2 separate regions of the Homo sapiens genome follow, and region 2 is linked to region 1. The links come from fine-mapping of genetic effects on gene expression. Tissue or cell type: fibroblasts. Region 1 holds a variant in brackets; the other region holds the start of a gene. All regions are shown on one strand. Distances are from middle to middle.

Region 1 (8,107 bases):
AAGTGTTTGTGCTTAATTTACTAAAAATCACTAAAATCTTCCGTGTGTGTGTGTGTGTGTGTGTGTGTGTGTGTGTGTGTGTGTGTCTTTCAGGAGAAACTGATTCTAGGAAATTGCACTGATCATTTCTTCTTAGTGATTATATTTTTTTGTGTGACTTATATATATAAAATGAATAAACTGACTTTTTTTAAGTTAGTGATACTATAAAGAAAGTGGTTGTTACGTCATTCAGACATACTGACTCAGAGTGTTCAATATTTTATTGAAAAAGGCTGTTTCATTTGTTTCACTCTGTTTAGAAAAGGAAGACCAGTGTCTCATGCCTGAAGCCTGGAATGTGGACCAGGGAGTAATTACCAAACTCAAGGAACAATACAAAAAGGAGAGAAAGGGGAAAAAGGGGGTGAAGAGTAAGTGGAAAACATTGTATCTGTAAATCATAAATCTTGCCTCTTTACATCCCCCAGTTTTTTTTTTCAATGTTTTCCTAAATCTACTTACTCTTTTTCATTTCTGCTCCTGACCTCTTTCCTTTTCACCTGCTCTCAGGGGTTGAAATTAAATGATTAGCTATTTAATTATGAACTTAAAAGAAAACAACCCACATGTACTTATGGAATCATGTATACTATATCCCAATAATAAATCCAGAGCCTCATGAGTGTTGGGCTATGTATTCAAACACAGTGATAATTTGATTTTTAAAAGTACCTGTGCTTAATTATAACAATGTTTTTCTTTTTCATTGACAATTTATAACTCATTTAGTGTGACCCTCTGGCAATCCACCAAAATTATTGCTTATAATTTTAGACATTGGTGACAGAAAGTTAATTTCTACCCCTGAATATTCTATGTGTTCATAACATGCAGTTCATTTGCTCATACCACTATATGCTATACAGGGCACAGAGTCAAATATATAACTTCTAAAAATATTTATTTTCTATTTAAACATTTTTGGCCAATTTTACTTATAACATTATTACCAATGACCTTTTTTCCTTTTTAATGTATGCCACATCAAAAACAAAATCCAAAAGGAAATTTCTAGCCCTGTGAATCATATATGTTTAATTATTTCATTATGCAAATTGTTTAGCAATGGATCTAGTTAAGAATGTAAAATGGAAATACAAAACCTTACAAACCATTCCTGAAAACAGTCTTAAATCATCTTCTTAGGGGAACAAGGCTAAATTACCTCCTTGTGTTTCTACCCTCGTTGACAATATGGGCCTCCCTTTTATGGTAATAGGAATTTGATTATTTGAGATGTTAAGGTAGTATAAAGTGAGATTAAAATCTAACTTAGTGAGAAATGTATTTTAAAGTTGCGAAAGACTGGAAAGGTATGCTTTTTCTTTTTCTCTCTCTGTAGTGATGCTAAAGCTTATTAAAGACCAGTCATTCCTGTTAGGACATTCTTTTAAACTTTATTACTTAAAAGCATTTAAACCTTTATTTAAAATATTTTAGAAATTACAAGCGTTTAGCTTGATTTGATAAAAAGTCAGTGTCTGTTATTGATGTTAAACCATTACATAATGAGAGATGATGTTGTAATGCTATCTCAAGATAGATTAAATCAGAATGAGAAAGATTAATATTAAAACATAAGCACATTTCATACCTTTTCGCCAAATATACTTACTGATAGACAATTTAATCTTAACAAGCATAGGGAGATGATTTGTCTTGGCTTTTGAGAGTCATGACAAAAAACCAGTTAAACTGAAATTTTGAGGAAAATTTGAATGTCATATGTGAGAAATAATTTCCAGATTAACTTAATGTTGATATTTTTCTTTAGGTCATTATGCTACAAAAATGAATGTCTTGAAATACAAAAGATCCTTTAGTTGGAAAGGTAACCAGGACTTAGGCACAATCCATCTACTTTTCCATTGGTTATTCAGTTCTTGTCAAATATCAAGGCATTGCTGTAGTTGGAATTTAACTGAAACTGCACCATTTGACTGGAACAATATTCCTACTAATAGAAGCAATTGGATTTCTTAAATCGGGGGATTAAAATGTGTTCAGACATCTAGCACATGGTTTTTTTTTAGTATGGTGAAGAAAAATGACACTGTAAGGGAGAAATTTTAACATCTTTCATTGAAGAGAGAGGGACTACACATTTCAGCACATTTTGTTTAATGTCTTCAGTTCATGTTATCTTGATAAAATAGCAATCTAGGAACAAGTAAAGACTTAGGATAAAAATAGAACTGAAGCCATGCTTTGAATTGATATATAAAGCATTGAGTTATAAACCACCATAAATTTTTTTTTTTTAATTGAACTAGTACTCATTGGAAAAGTTTGAGTCTTTTCAATGTGGTCTAGTAGAGATATTTCCAGTCAAATCCTGTACTCCAATCATACCATCTTGAAATACATTTCTAGGCATTAGTAAAAATTGCTTAAAAATAGTTGTATTCTTTGCTGGTATAGGAACAAACCATAACAGACTTTGGGTAAGATTTTCCCATTCTTAATTAAACTTGTAACAGGAAAAACTACTGAAGATCTGTTTCAGCCTCTATCCTATATAAAACAGTCAAAACAGGGATGTGGGAGAATGAAGAATCAAAGTTTAGGTAAGTAATCGGTAGGGCATGAGACTTCACCTCGGGTACCATAGCTTCAGGATGTAAGGCAATTAATGCAACTTAATTTAAACAAACAGGGATGTTACTGTTTAATTCAGTGCACAGTAGGCTCACAATCTGTATCTGGCTGCATTTAGAGCAATATTCAGTGGCTAAAGAATGTTATTTTTCATGGTCTAACTGGACACGAGCATTCTTTTTTATGTAAATAGTGATATCCCATTTGCTTAATTTAAAAAGTATAATTCTTTTCAAGAAATAAACTTTTACAGTAATTTGAAAACTTGAAAATAATTCTTATTAATCTAGTAGAATATTTTTAAAGGTAAATATTGACAGATGGAAAATAAGGCTTATAATACCATTTTGATGCAATTGGATAATTCTCTTTTCTCTTTTTTATCTCCTCCCACCCCCCCTTTTTTTGGCTAGGGCCCAATAGGTCAAAACTACAAGATATGCTTGCTAATTTGAGAGATGTTGATGAACTTCCTTCATTGCAGCCATCTGTGGGTTCACCTTCCAGACCCAGCAGCTCCAGGCTTCCTGAACATGAAATTAATAGGGCAGATGAAGGTAAGTATTTAAGATACTCTGGAGCACAA[A/T]ATGCACTTGGATGTATATCTTTAAATTCATTCATTAGAAAGGCCTCTCCTATTAGAGAGAACTTTATTCTGCAGATGTTTGATCTGCATAGTTTTCCCCAAATGCAAGCTTTCTTACATTCAAGGGAGTTTGATTCCAACTTCAATCTTCAAGACTTGAGAAGGTGCATACACTTAAAAACCAACTCTAAATTCTGGTTTAAAATATCCGCTGGCTCCACTGATGCCCATGGCCCTATATATACCATTCCAACATTGGAAAAATTAGCAGTCTGTAAATTGGTAGTAAATGTTTACTTTGAAACTCATATAAATATTTAAGCAATTTATTAATGATAATTGAAAAAGGGGATAAAGTCACCTAAAAGTCTAGTCACATATTCTGCTATTTTAACTTGTTCCCTTTCAGTCTTGGTTCACATGTGTATACTTTTTTTTTGTTTTTTGAGATGGAGTCTCGCTCTATCGCCCAGGCTGGAGTGCAGTGGCATGACCTTGGCTCGCTACAACCTCCACCTCCCAGGTTCAAGTGATTCTCTTGCCTTAGCCTCCTGAGTAGCTGAGATTACAGGCACCTGCCGCCAAGCCTAGCTAATTTTTTTGTATTTTTAGTAGAGATGGGGTTTTGCCATGTTGGCCAGGCTGGCCTCGAATTCCTGACCTCAAGTGATCTGCCCATCTTGGGCTCCCAAAGTGCTGGGATTACAGGCATGAGCCACCATGCCTGGCCTCACATGTATATACTTTTTATACAGGTATAGAATATACCTATATAAAAATATGCATTATTCTACATCATGTATAATAATTCTATTTTGTGTTCTTAAAATCATACAAATGATTTTCATAATGATAATTTTAAGATTGTATATTATATTGTAGACTTGATATGAAACTTTTGAATATTTAGGTTATTTTTAGTCTTTTGCAGTGTAATCTTATGGTATATAAATACAGTTCTTTCTTTTAGACACAAGGTCTGATTTATCTGTTTATAAATGTGTAAAATGCTTGTATGTGGAAATTGATTTTGAAGTACATATTTAGGCTGAGCCTGGTGGTTCCTTGGGAGGCTGAGGTGGGAGGACACTTGAGCCCAGGAGGTTTGTTTTGTTTTTTGTTTGTTTGTTTTTGGAGACAGGCTGTCACTCTGTCACTCAGATTAGAGTGCAGTGGCGCAATCACAGCTCACCACAACCTTGACCTCTCAGGCTCAGGTGATACTTCCACCTCAGCCTCCTGAGTAGCTAGGACTATAGGCACATGCCACCATGCCCAGATAACTTTTTTATGCTTTTTGTAGAGACATGGTTTTGCCATGTTGTTCAGGCTGATCTCAAACTCCTGGGCTCAAGTGATCCAACTGCGTCGGCCTCCCAAAGTGCTGGGATTACAGGCATGAGCCACTGGGCTCAGCCGCAGTTCAGGAGTTTGAGACTGTAGTGCGTGATGATTGAGTCAGTGAATAGCTACTGCACTCCAGCCTGGGTGACATACTGAAACCCTGTCTCTTAAAACAATCAAATATTTATATTAGCTGAAAATTCAGCATGACATAAAAGTAATTATGATTAATGTATATTTTTAAATACTTATTTAAAAAATTCTGAATTTAAATACTATATTTGCATTGTCTCTTCAAATTATTATTTATTGATCAACACAGCCTGAGAAAAAGCCACAGCATAATCATATGTTTTTTTCTTGTTTTTTTTTAATAAATTACATTTTAGAGAGACATAAACTGATATGATTTAGATGTATCTAGATTTTCACGATTGGAATACTTCTTCAGTGAAATTTTTGACCAGTACATGGTTAATCATTTGTTAGAGTCAATTATAGCACTTGGAATTTATTACCCATACAAAGAATCAACACATCACACTGTAGATGTAAAGTTTATTTGATGTCTTTTGAATTACAGATGTGAGGTCATGGTCCTTAGTAGGTATGTTGATCACTAGGAGATGCATTCTGTTGACATTATAGGTATGAGACTTCTAATCAGTTGCATTAATCCCAAAATCAGGTCTAGATAAGGAGAAAAGTTAGTTTTTCTCTTATTCTCATAATTCAAAAAGTTTATCAGATTTCATCTCAGGCCATACATGAATTATGCAGAATTCTAATAATAGAGGTAGGATATATACTATTTACTAAATGACAGATGTACAAAAGCATTATGTAAGCCACAGAAGATGTCCTTGATAAAAAACATAGTGAGGAACTTTAAAACTCAAGCATTGAATGTTTGTTTAACTTACTATCTGCAGCAGTGGTCCTAAGCCTTCCCCCTCAGTGCAGGTTTTTTGGAAATAGAAAAAACATTTAAGAGATAGATTGTATATTTAATTGTCTATAACTGATACTTCTTGGTCTTCAGTCCACTTTCAGAAAGAATGTTCATATGCTGTGTGTGCTCTATAATTTTGTTACTTTATTTTTATTTTAATAATTCAGAAGGCAGGGCCGGGTGCAGTTTAGTTGCTCACGCCTGTAATCCCAGCACTTTGGGAGGCTGAGGTGGGCAGATCACTTGAGGCCAGAAATTCAAGACCAGCCTGGCCAACATGGCAAAACCCTGTCTCAAATAAAAATACAAAAATTAGCTGGACATGGTGGCGTGTGCCTGTAGTCCCAGCTACTTGGGAGGCTGAGGCAGGAGAATCACTTGAACCCAGGAGGCGGAGGTTGCAGTGAGCTGACATCACACCACTGCACTTCAGTCTGGGTGACAGAGTGAGATTCTGTCTTAAAAAAAAAAAAAAAAAAAAAAAAAAAGAAGGCAGTGTCACATTTAAAAGGCACAGGGTTTTGTTTTGTTTTGTTTTTTGGTAAAAGCTGATTAGGGCTAGGAAGGTTTAGTTGCCAGATGGAAACGTGACCTATAGTCTTAAGTTCTAAGGCTCCTTAGGAACAATCAGGTAACAGTGATGCTTATTATTGCTCTGCCTCATCAGTCCTGGAGTGTCCTGGCTGTCCACTGGTATGTAAGGAAGGAGTTGTTACCTCCTTTGTTTTCAGGTTTTACTTGGCCATTTGTAGAGCAGTAGTTAGAATTAACTTACATAATTTATATGGTCTATCCTAGGAATCTTAGTCTTTTACACCTGAACAAAGTTATCTGGAAATGTTAGAAATGGGAACAAATCAAACAAAAAACACCTGGCTGAAGACCTACCATCATAGTCTCACATGAGTCATTCAACTGATATTTTTGACCTGAAAATTGCTGTTGTAACTTCAACAATTCCTATTCTTCATTAGTAAATGTTTAGAGTTGTTTGAACTTCTCGGATGATATATGGTATTTTGGGTAAAACCTATGTTTATTTTTGCTACTGTATTGTATGGTAGTTTGATAATGTCTTAATTTATGCTCTATTTTGTTCTGATGAGGATTTTAAGAGTTTGTCACTACTGTTTTTAAAAGCAAGTAACTATTTTTAAATTTTTTTTAAAGACATGGTCTTGCTCTGTTGCCTAGGTTGGAGTGCAGTGGTACAGTCATAGCTCACTGTAGCCTCAAACTCCTGGGCTCAAGAGATCCTCCTGCCTCAAGCCTTCCAGTTAGCTAGGACTAGAGGCATGCACCACCATGCTTGGTTAATTGTTAAAAAAAATTTTGTAGAGGCCGGGCATGATGGCTCACGCCTGTAATCCCAACACTTTGGGAGGCCAAGGCAGGGAGATCGCTTGAGGTCAGGAGTTTGAGACCAGCCTGGCCAACGTGGCAAAACCCCATCTCGACTAAAAATACAAAAATTAGCCAGGCATGGTGGCAGGTGCCTGTAATCTCAGCTACTTGGGAGGCTGAGACAGGAGAATTTGCTTGAACCTGGGAGGTGTACGTTGCAGTGAGCTGAGATCACACCACTGCACTCCAGCCTGGGTGACAGAGTGAGACCCCGTCTCAGATTTTTTTTTTTTTTTAAGATATAGGGGTCTTGCCCTGTCGCCCAGGCTGGTCTCAGACATCTGGCCCCAAAGGGTCCTCTCACCTTGGTATCCCAAAACACTAAGATTACAGGCATGAGCCTCCGAGCCTGGCCAATTCTTTCATTTATTCAATGAGTATTTATTAATAGACATGATTGAATATAAAACTGAAAAATGTCTTGTACGTGCACTAGTCAATACAGTTGACTTGTTTCTTTTAAGAAAATTAATTTACCCCTTTAGCAGCTAGGGTTTGAACTACTAAATTCATCTTATTGACTCACAAATGTTTGTCATATGTAACCATCTGTAGGAAACTACTCAAAGACTATCTCTGACGTTTGTCAGAACAAATTGCATTTATAAAGAGTGACATTTTGTTATTGACCAAATTAAATAAAATCATTATTTTAATTAGACATATTGCTTTTAACTGATTTTTCTATGATGGTTGTTGAAGGAATTGGATTGTTATGTTCAAAATGTTACAAAATAGGATATTTCAGGTTATTCACAAAGTAAAACTGACATCTTTGAAGCACAGTTCACAGCTAATGAAAGTGTTCAAATGGACACTTTAAAAAATTTTCTCGCTGGGCGTGGTGGCTCACGCCTGTATCCCCAGCACTTTGGGAGGCCAAGGTCGGTGGATCACCTGAGATCAGAATTTGAGATTAGCCTGGTCAACATGGGGAAACCCCGTCTCTACTAAAAATACAAAAATTAGCCAGGCATGGTGGCAGGCGCCTGTAATCCCAGCTACTTGGGAGGCTGAGGCAGGAGAATTGCTTGAACCCAGGAGGCAGAGGTTGCAGTAAGCTGAGATCATGCCAGTGCACTCCAGCCTGGGCCATAGAGCATGACTCCATCTAAAAAACAAAAAAAACAAATAAACAAAACATTTTCTTTACCGGGTGCAGTGGCTCATGCCTGTAATCC
Region 2 (8,107 bases), 83 kb before region 1:
TGGGCATAGACGTTAGTTTTTTTTTTTTGGGGGGGGTTGTTTTTGTTTTCATGGTTTGTTTTTGTTTTTGTTTTTGGAGACGGAGTTTCGCTGTTGTTGCCCAGGCTACAGTGCAGTGGCGTGATCTTGGCTCACTGCAACCTCCGCCCCCCGGTTTCAAGCGATTCACCTGCTTCAGCCTCTGGAGTAGCTGGGACCACAAGTGCACACCGCCATGCCTGGCTAATTTTTTTTGTATTTTTGGTAGAGATGGGGTTTTACCATGTTGGCCAGGCTGGTCTCAAACTTCTGACCTCAGGTGATCCACCCACCTCTGCCTCCCAAAGTGCTGGGATTATAGGTGTGAGCCACCGCCGTCCGGCCTGTTTTTTTTTTTTTTTTTGAGACGGAGTCTCCCTCTGCCGCTCAATCTGGAGGGCAGTGGCACGATCTTGGCTCACTGCAACCTCCTCCTCCCAGGTTCAAGTGATTCTCCTGCCTCAGCTTCTCGAGTAGCTGGGATTACAGGCACCTGCCACTGCACCCAGCTAATTTTTTTAATTTTTAGTAGAGACGGGGTTTCACCATGTTGGCCAGGCTGGTCTCAAATTCCTGACCTCGTGATTTGCCCACCTCGGCCTCCCGAAGTGCTGGGATTACAGGCGTGAGCCACCTCACCCGGCCCTGTTTTTGTTTTTTAAAGATTATTTTAACTCTACTAATTTAAAGTTTTGAATAGGGAATGAGAAAGGAGAGAACAATGATTGAGCCCCTAGAATTTACCAGGGACTGTTTCTTTTACATATATTGTTTCAGTTACTCTTGTGAACTGTATTGCAATAATAGCTATCACTATTCCGTAATATACCATATAGTAGGCACTATGAGAGGGGATTTACTTTTTTTCTTCCATTTAACTTCACAGCAACTTTATTAGGTGACTATTATTCCCATATTAAAAAATGAGAGAATTGAGCTGGGATTACAGGCGCAAGCTGCCACGCCCAGCTAATTTTTTTTTGTATTTTAGTAGAGATGGGGTTTCTCAGTGTTGCCCAGACTGGTCTTGAACTCCTGAGCTCAGGTAATCCACCCGCCTCGGTCTTCCAAAGTGCTAGGATTGCAGGCATGAGCCACCGTGCCAGGACCAATAAGTGATAATTATGGGATTCATAGTCCTATAGTTTTAAGGCAACTTAGGGCACCAGAACTCTAAGGGAAGGCCTTCTTTTTAAAACTTTTTTTTTTTTTTGAATCACAGTCTCACTGTATTGCCTAGGCTGGAGTGCAGTGTCATGATCTTGGCTCACTGCAACCTCCACCTCCCGGGTTCAAGCGATTATCGTACCTCAGCCTCCCAAGTAGCTGGGACTACAGGCATGTGCCACCACGCCTGGCTAATTTTTGTATTCTTAGTAGAGACGGGTTTTGCCATGTTGGCCAGGCTGTTCTCCAACTGTTACCGGTGGAGAGTGTCCAGGTTGTTGAAATCTTGAACAAAGAATTGGGGAAAGCGCACAAAGCAAGGAAAGAATGAAGCAACAAAAACAGAGATTTGTTGAAAATGAAAGTAGGCTCCACAGTGCAGGGGCAGGCCCGAGCATAGGGGATCAAGAGTCCCGTTACAGAATTTTCTGGGGTTTGAATACCCTCTAGAGGTTTCCACTGGTTACTTGGTGTGCGCCCTATGTAAATGAAGAGGATGAAGTAAAGTTACAACGTCATTTAGTTGGTGTGCGCCCTATGTAAGTGGAGAGGACATTTCCTGTTATAGCTGAAGTATTTCCATTTGATTCAGTTCTAGGTAGTCAGCCTGAATCTACTTTACGTTCCCTGCCTCCAGACCCTATTCTCCTGCCTCCTGCCCACAACTCCCAGGCTCCAGTGATCTACCCGCCTCGGCCTCCCAAAGTGCTGGGATTACAGGCGTGAGCCATGGCGCCTGGCCAAAATGTAAATGAGTCCTCGTAAAGCAAAAAAAGTATTGTGAGTAATAAAGTTGAACTACGAATTAAAATAGTTTTTGTATATGTGTGGTAGTCCAGATTATCTATACATTTAATTACATTTTGTGTCTGCTATGAATTGACTTAAAGGAATTGTCGGATATGTCGTCTCACTCAAGGCCTCATTGTTGACAAGTCTCAATTTTTTTGGAATTTAGTTCCTTGAGCTGTAAATGAGAAGACTGGGCTGTATCTCAAAGGACACTGACAGCCAAAATAAGTTATGGCACAGGGAATTTGGCCAGGCCTGGATCAATCTTTGATGATAATAAAGAATGAATTCATAAAGCAGAAACATTAATTAAGCGAGAGAAGAGAGTTCTCCATCTTTATTTGCAACCAGAGCAGACACAATGTGTTTCCTGTCCTTTCTGCAAGTAGCCATGGGAAAGGGGGGGAGGGGAGAGAGGACAGGGACAGGATGTCTTTCCCTGACATGTCACTCAGCAGCCTAGATCTTTACATTTTTTCATGGCCATCAAGTCTGATAACCCACAAGTACGTCCTACAAAACGTAAGAATTTCAGATAACTTGTTAGGGTGACAAAATAAGTGCTTAATTTCATTTGCATTTGTTAAATTGTTTTCAGGGGCCTTCCTTTTTGCCACTGTTGTAGTGTGAATTTATAGTGACATATTGTCAGACTTCGGAGAAGGCAAATATTTACAGAGAGTAACTTGAAAGGACTTTGGTGTACCTTTGGTAGGCGGATGCTGTTGCCAGTTGGCAGGTGAATCGTGAAAGAAACTGGGAACAGGACAAGTGAAAACGGAGAGGGGCCAGGATATCTAAGACCGCGCTAGGGAGCAGAAAGGGAACTTGCTTTTTCAAGGTGGTGTAGCTTTTAAATTAAGCCTTTGTGATATTTGATTATACGCCAATCTTTGATGACAGAAACGATGTCATTTATCTTAATATTCCCAGCGCAAGAGAAAACCGATAATCAAAATATTTGTTCAATTAAGTAGAGTAAAAATCAGCGGGAATAAGATAGGAAAAATGAGACCGAAATAACAGAACATCTATTATTGGATGCTAAAACTTTTACAGGATTTACTGCAGGAGGACTGCAAAGGGAAAGAAACTTCAACGGAGCAGTTTTTCAGATGGGCTGTCAACAAACCACAATTTGGAAGCAGCAGCAGAAAGCTGCGGCGTTGTCTTAGAAAGGTGATCGGCGTTCCTTAGAAATGAAAACTGGTCAGGTAACAGGTTTGAGCCCCTCGAGTCAAAAGAGAAAGGCAAGAGCGACAGCGACCCGCAGATTGGCAGAATGGAGGAGCGTCTAGGGTGAGAGAAACTCCGAACACGAAGCCGAAGCGAGAGCACGCAGGGCAGCTGGCGGGAGAACCCCGGTCCCGCGGCCGCACCGGGTAGCTCGCTTTGAGCCTGTTCCTTCACAGAACGGCCAGGAAGCCTTAAAAGATGTGCAGCTCGGGCAGGTATCTTGGCGTGACAACTTCCGTGTGTGTGTGTGTGTGTGTGTGTGTGTGTTTTTGAATGCAACAGGGTGCGCCGCCCGCGAACTTCCGCGTGCGAGGAAGACTGGAGACCCGCCCGCCCGCGCCCAGCCGGCCCCAGAGGAAACCCGCTCTCCCCGCCCAGCCGGCCCCCTACGCGGCGAGCCGGGGCGGGGCGGGCCCGAGGCCACGCCCAAGCTGAGGCACAGCCCTACAGGCCGCCCGGGCCGCGCTAGCCCGCGCCCCGCCCCGCGACTACATTTCCCGGCAAGCCCCGGGCCGCCAGCGCGCCGCAGTTGACCCATTTCCCGGCCCGTCACGGGCTCGGCCGGCCCCCGCGCCCAGGAGGCTGCTCCCTGCTGACTGGGGTGTGGGCGGGAGCGGCGGAGGGAGGAGGAGGCGCTGCTTGCCGCCGCTGTTGCCTCCGCTGCTGGGCGCCGGGGCAGCTCCCCGGGTATCTGCGGCCGCCATGGACGAGCAGGCGGGTCCCGGCGTCTTCTTCAGCAACAACCACCCGGGCGCCGGCGGTGCCAAGGGGCTCGGGCCTCTGGCGGAGGCTGCCGCGGCCGGCGACGGGGCGGCTGCGGCGGGGGCGGCCCGAGCCCAGTACAGTCTCCCGGGGATCCTGCACTTCCTGCAGCACGAGTGGGCCCGCTTCGAGGTGGAGAGAGCCCAGTGGGAGGTGGAGCGGGCGGAGCTGCAGGTAAAGACCCTCCCGGCCTGGCCGTCTTCATCCCGCCTCTTTGCTCCCTTCCGCCCCGCCCCGGACCCTTCTCCCCCTCCCCCAGCCTTCTCGCGTCCCCTCCCCCTTTGCTGCCGCCCATCCCACCCGGAGCCCCGTCCCCTTCTTCTCTTCGCCTTTTGCCTTTCGCTGACCCCACCTCGACCCTGTTCTCACTCCCGCTCCTGGTGCGTTGTTTACCCTCCCCACGCCTGTTCGTCCGCCCCATCCCACTCTTAACTCCCAGACTCATTTCAACTCTCTGGCCATCCTGCATCTCAGGGCTGCCCTCTCGGTTTACTAATTGGGCTGGCAGTAGTTTTGAGAGACGCGGAGCAAATCGTCCGCTGCCCTGGTGTGCCCCTTCCTAGGTCTAGAGACAGTCTCCGCAGAACGTGCCGGCTTTGGCCCCTCTCTTCAAGGAAGGTGATCAAGAAGACAACAGAAGTTGTGTCAGGCCTTGAGTCGAGGCGAGAAGTTGACGTTGGGCAAAAGTGTTATTCATATATCAGATCCCTTTTTTTATATATGTAAATGTCTGTTCTCCACTTTCTTCCGACCCCCCGGCCCCCTCCCACGTTTCTTTTAGGTATTTCCAATTAATGCATTTTGAATGAAGGACCTAGATGATCGCAGTCAGAGAGAATGGTTAAGAGGTGGTTCCTGTTCTCAGAATCTGAAACTTCCCAAGGGTTAATTTTATGTTCAGTGTTTTGGGAGATTTTCTTGTGCTTTAAAAGGAACTAAAGGGACTTTGAAGTTAGTTACATTGCCTTGCATAATCTGCAAGATAAAGTATATCCAGGGAGGAGATAACTGTGGGCTCTGAAAAGAATGAAAGTGAGGCTGATACTTTACAAGCCATTCAGAATTGGTGAATAGGTTTTCAGTGGTTGTTCTTAAAACTTCCAGGGCATACACACCAATTTCAAAAGGAACTTAAAGAACTATGAATAGTTGTGCCTTTCTGTTTTACGGGCTAAGCCTGTATACTTATGAAATTTGAGTATAGTTTTAGTTGGCAAAACACTTGAGTTTAAAATGCTACCCAGTGTGTCACTTTTTTTGGTAACATGTATTTGGCGCTTAAGAAAAAAAAGAAGAGGAGAAATCTGTTAAATAGAATCATGTGCTGGAACAGGCTCTGGTGTAGTGGAAGTGGCTGTGGAAAGAGCGAACACACAAGGCTGTAGTAGACAAGGTTATAGTAAGGGCTGTGTTTGTTGCTAGCTCTGTGACCTTGAGGAAATCCTTTAACCTCTCTGGGTTTCAGTTTTATCATGTATTTTATTCAGCACCTGTGTATTGAGTGCCAGCTGTGTGTCTAGGCCCTGTGTTGAAAGAAAACCGACCAAGCTTCTGCCCTCATGGAGTTTATGTTTTAGTGGAGAGGCAAACAGTCCAGCAAATGCGCCTATAGAATATAATGGCTTATAGTGGCAACTGCTGTGAGGAAGAAATAAGTCAGAGTTCAGGAATAGCGTGTGATAGGGGCAGCTATTTTAGATGGGGTAGTCAGGGTAGGCCTCTGAGAGATGACAAATGAGCAGCTGAATGAAGTTAGGGAGTGACCAGTAGTTTCTATGATTTCCTTGTAAGTCTGTAGTTACATGTTTATATTATTTGGCAACTTTTTCATTCCTATTGTTATATTGCTGTAGTATTTAGTCGATCTAGTCTATCTGATATTTGCAAGTCTTCTTTGACCTTGTTTATATAGTCTCCAACAAATTTGAATACTTACAGATTGATCTTTATTAGCAGCGCATTCTATAAAAGGTGTGGATTTCAGGATTCAAGGAAATGTTAAAGGCAAAGTTTAACTTTAATGTTGTGCAGTTGTGGGGAATGATTTTTGTATTAGTTACTTAAAATTTAATTTCTTTTCCAGTTTTGGGAATATAGATAACTCACACTAATTTGGTTAAAAAAAAAAAAACAAAAACAAAACACACACACACACCAGAAAACAATGCTTACCTTTCTACCTGTAGAAGTTGGGGAATTCCAACCCATCCTTCCCCCCGCCCCGCCCCGTTCACTCCCTCTCCTCGTTTAAACTTTTCAATTTACTGGTAACTGTAGTTGATCTTCAGTTTTTATGCACACATCTCCAAACACCCCTTCCTGGGTTGTTTGTGGCAAATGTTTATTAACTTCAGGTAGCTTTCCCATGGGTGCTTATCATATTAAAGAGACTCCTTTTTTTTTTTCCTTTTATTGGAGAGAGGGTCTCGCTCTGTTGCCCAGGCCGGTGTGCAGTGGTGCAGTCTTAGCTCACTGCAACCTCCGCCTCCCAGGTTTAAGCAATCCTTCTGCCTCAGCCTCCCAAGTTTAAGCAATCCTTCTGCCTCAGCCTCCCAAGTAGCTGGGATTACAGTCATGCACCACCATGCCTGGCTTATTTTTGTATTTTTGGTAGAGACGGGGTTTCACAATGTTGGCCAGGTTGGTCTTGAACTACTGACCTCAGTGATCTGCCTGCCTCAGCCTCCCAAAGTGCTGGTATTACAGGCGTGAGCCACTGTGCCCGGCCAAGGACACTACTTTTTTGACAGCATTTTCTGTTTTGTGTTCCAATTAAAGTTTCCACAGAGAAACTTTAAAAATGTGTCATTTTCCTAACAGGATGAATATGATATATTTTGGGGGGAAGAGTTTGCAGTAATCTCTGGTCTTTGTCCCCCCTTATTAGTGTAATTGGAAAAAAAATTATTACCATCGTTACATTTGAATCTTCTTTATTTTTCTTTTGCTACTGGAATTTTCTTAGAAACACAATAGGAAGTAAAATAGTTGAATGCGTTGTGATGAAATACGGCTCAGTTGGTGTCCTCCTTTTAATTTTTAAATCTCTTCCTAAGCCATTAACACCAGAGTCAACACAAATACCTTTAAGATGAAGTCAAATTTGCCTCTTCAAGAACCTGTCAGTCCTGCTCTTTCAGGTTGCCAGGGAAGACTTGTGAAAGGCAATCCAAGCTCTCATCTGCCTGGCCTGCCTTTACTGCTTCCTCCCTCCTTCAGATCTTGGGAGTAAGGAAAGGGCCACGTTATAGCAAAAACCTATTTATTTGTCACTTATTTCACTCTTGCTCATCTTATTTGATAAATTCTCTTTTTATTTTTGGTAATGCTCCCCTCCTCACATCCAGTTGAGATTAGGCAGTAGTTCATGGGGGGAAAAAAAGAATGATTAAGATTATTAGTGAGCTTTACATTTGTGAAAGGAATTGGAGAAGGAATACTAATAATATTTGAGAAAAATTTCTGTATGTGAGGCATTGTGCTAGATGACCTCAAAGAAACATGCAGTCTAGTTATTAGTACGATATAACTTGTAGAAGAATCAGAGTGTTTATCATTTGGGGAGAAGGCTAATTTCTTTAGAATAGTGAAGGAGAGGCCGGGCGCGGTGGCTCACACCTGTAATCCCCAGCACTTTGGGAGGCCAAGGCAGGCGGATCGTGAGGTCAAGATATCGAGACCGTCCTGGCCAACATGGTGAAACCTTGTCTCTGCTAAAAATACAAAAATTAGCTGAGCATGGTGGTGTGTGCTGGAGGCTGAGGCAGGAGAATCGCTTGAACCTGGGAGGCGGAGGTTGCAGTGAGCTGAGATCGTGCCACTGCACTCCAGCCTGGCGACAGAATGAGACTCCATCTTAAGAAAAAAAAAAAGAATAGTGAAGGAGAGAAGAGCCAGCAGTGAATGGGGAGAATAGCAGGAGTAAAGAACTTTATGAGTTCATGAGAACCTAAGGCTCAGTATTTGAAAATTACTGACTTATGAGAAAGCAGGCATGTAAATAAAAAATAAAAAATGTTGGCCCTAGATTTTGATATGTGTGTGGTGTGTGGTGTAGGAGAGGCCCTGATATTTACCTGTAAGTGTTAGAGTTGTATGAAAAAGGTGGCAAGATTGAGTAGCTTAGGGCATG

Which allele goes with the higher level. Positions count from the first base shown, and alleles are read on the strand shown. Sizes are in standard deviations (SD) of each study's normalised expression.
With allele T in place of A in region 1, the expression in fibroblasts of the gene that starts at base 3,843 in region 2 is lower (small effect, 0.13 SD a copy in GTEx).

The links. PIP is the estimated chance that this variant, and not a neighbour inherited with it, causes the effect.
Region 2: it holds the start of STRN, and the variant in region 1 is fine-mapped to the expression of STRN in fibroblasts (GTEx, PIP 0.92).

The regions. Positions count from the first base shown.
Region 1 is chr2:36,879,022-36,887,128 of GRCh38, reverse strand. It overlaps STRN (striatin), which reads left to right. Exons shown (of 18, transcript NM_003162.4): 8 at 303-413; 9 at 3,054-3,197. Among named protein-coding and RNA genes, the nearest start is that of STRN, 83 kb to the left of the region's middle. The variant A/T (reference allele first, on the strand shown) is at 3,227.
Region 2 is chr2:36,962,272-36,970,378 of GRCh38, reverse strand. STRN (striatin) reads left to right here and starts at 3,843. Exons shown (of 18, transcript NM_003162.4): 1 at 3,843-4,149. The coding sequence starts at 3,916. RefSeq lists silencers at 3,353-4,162, 7,688-7,883.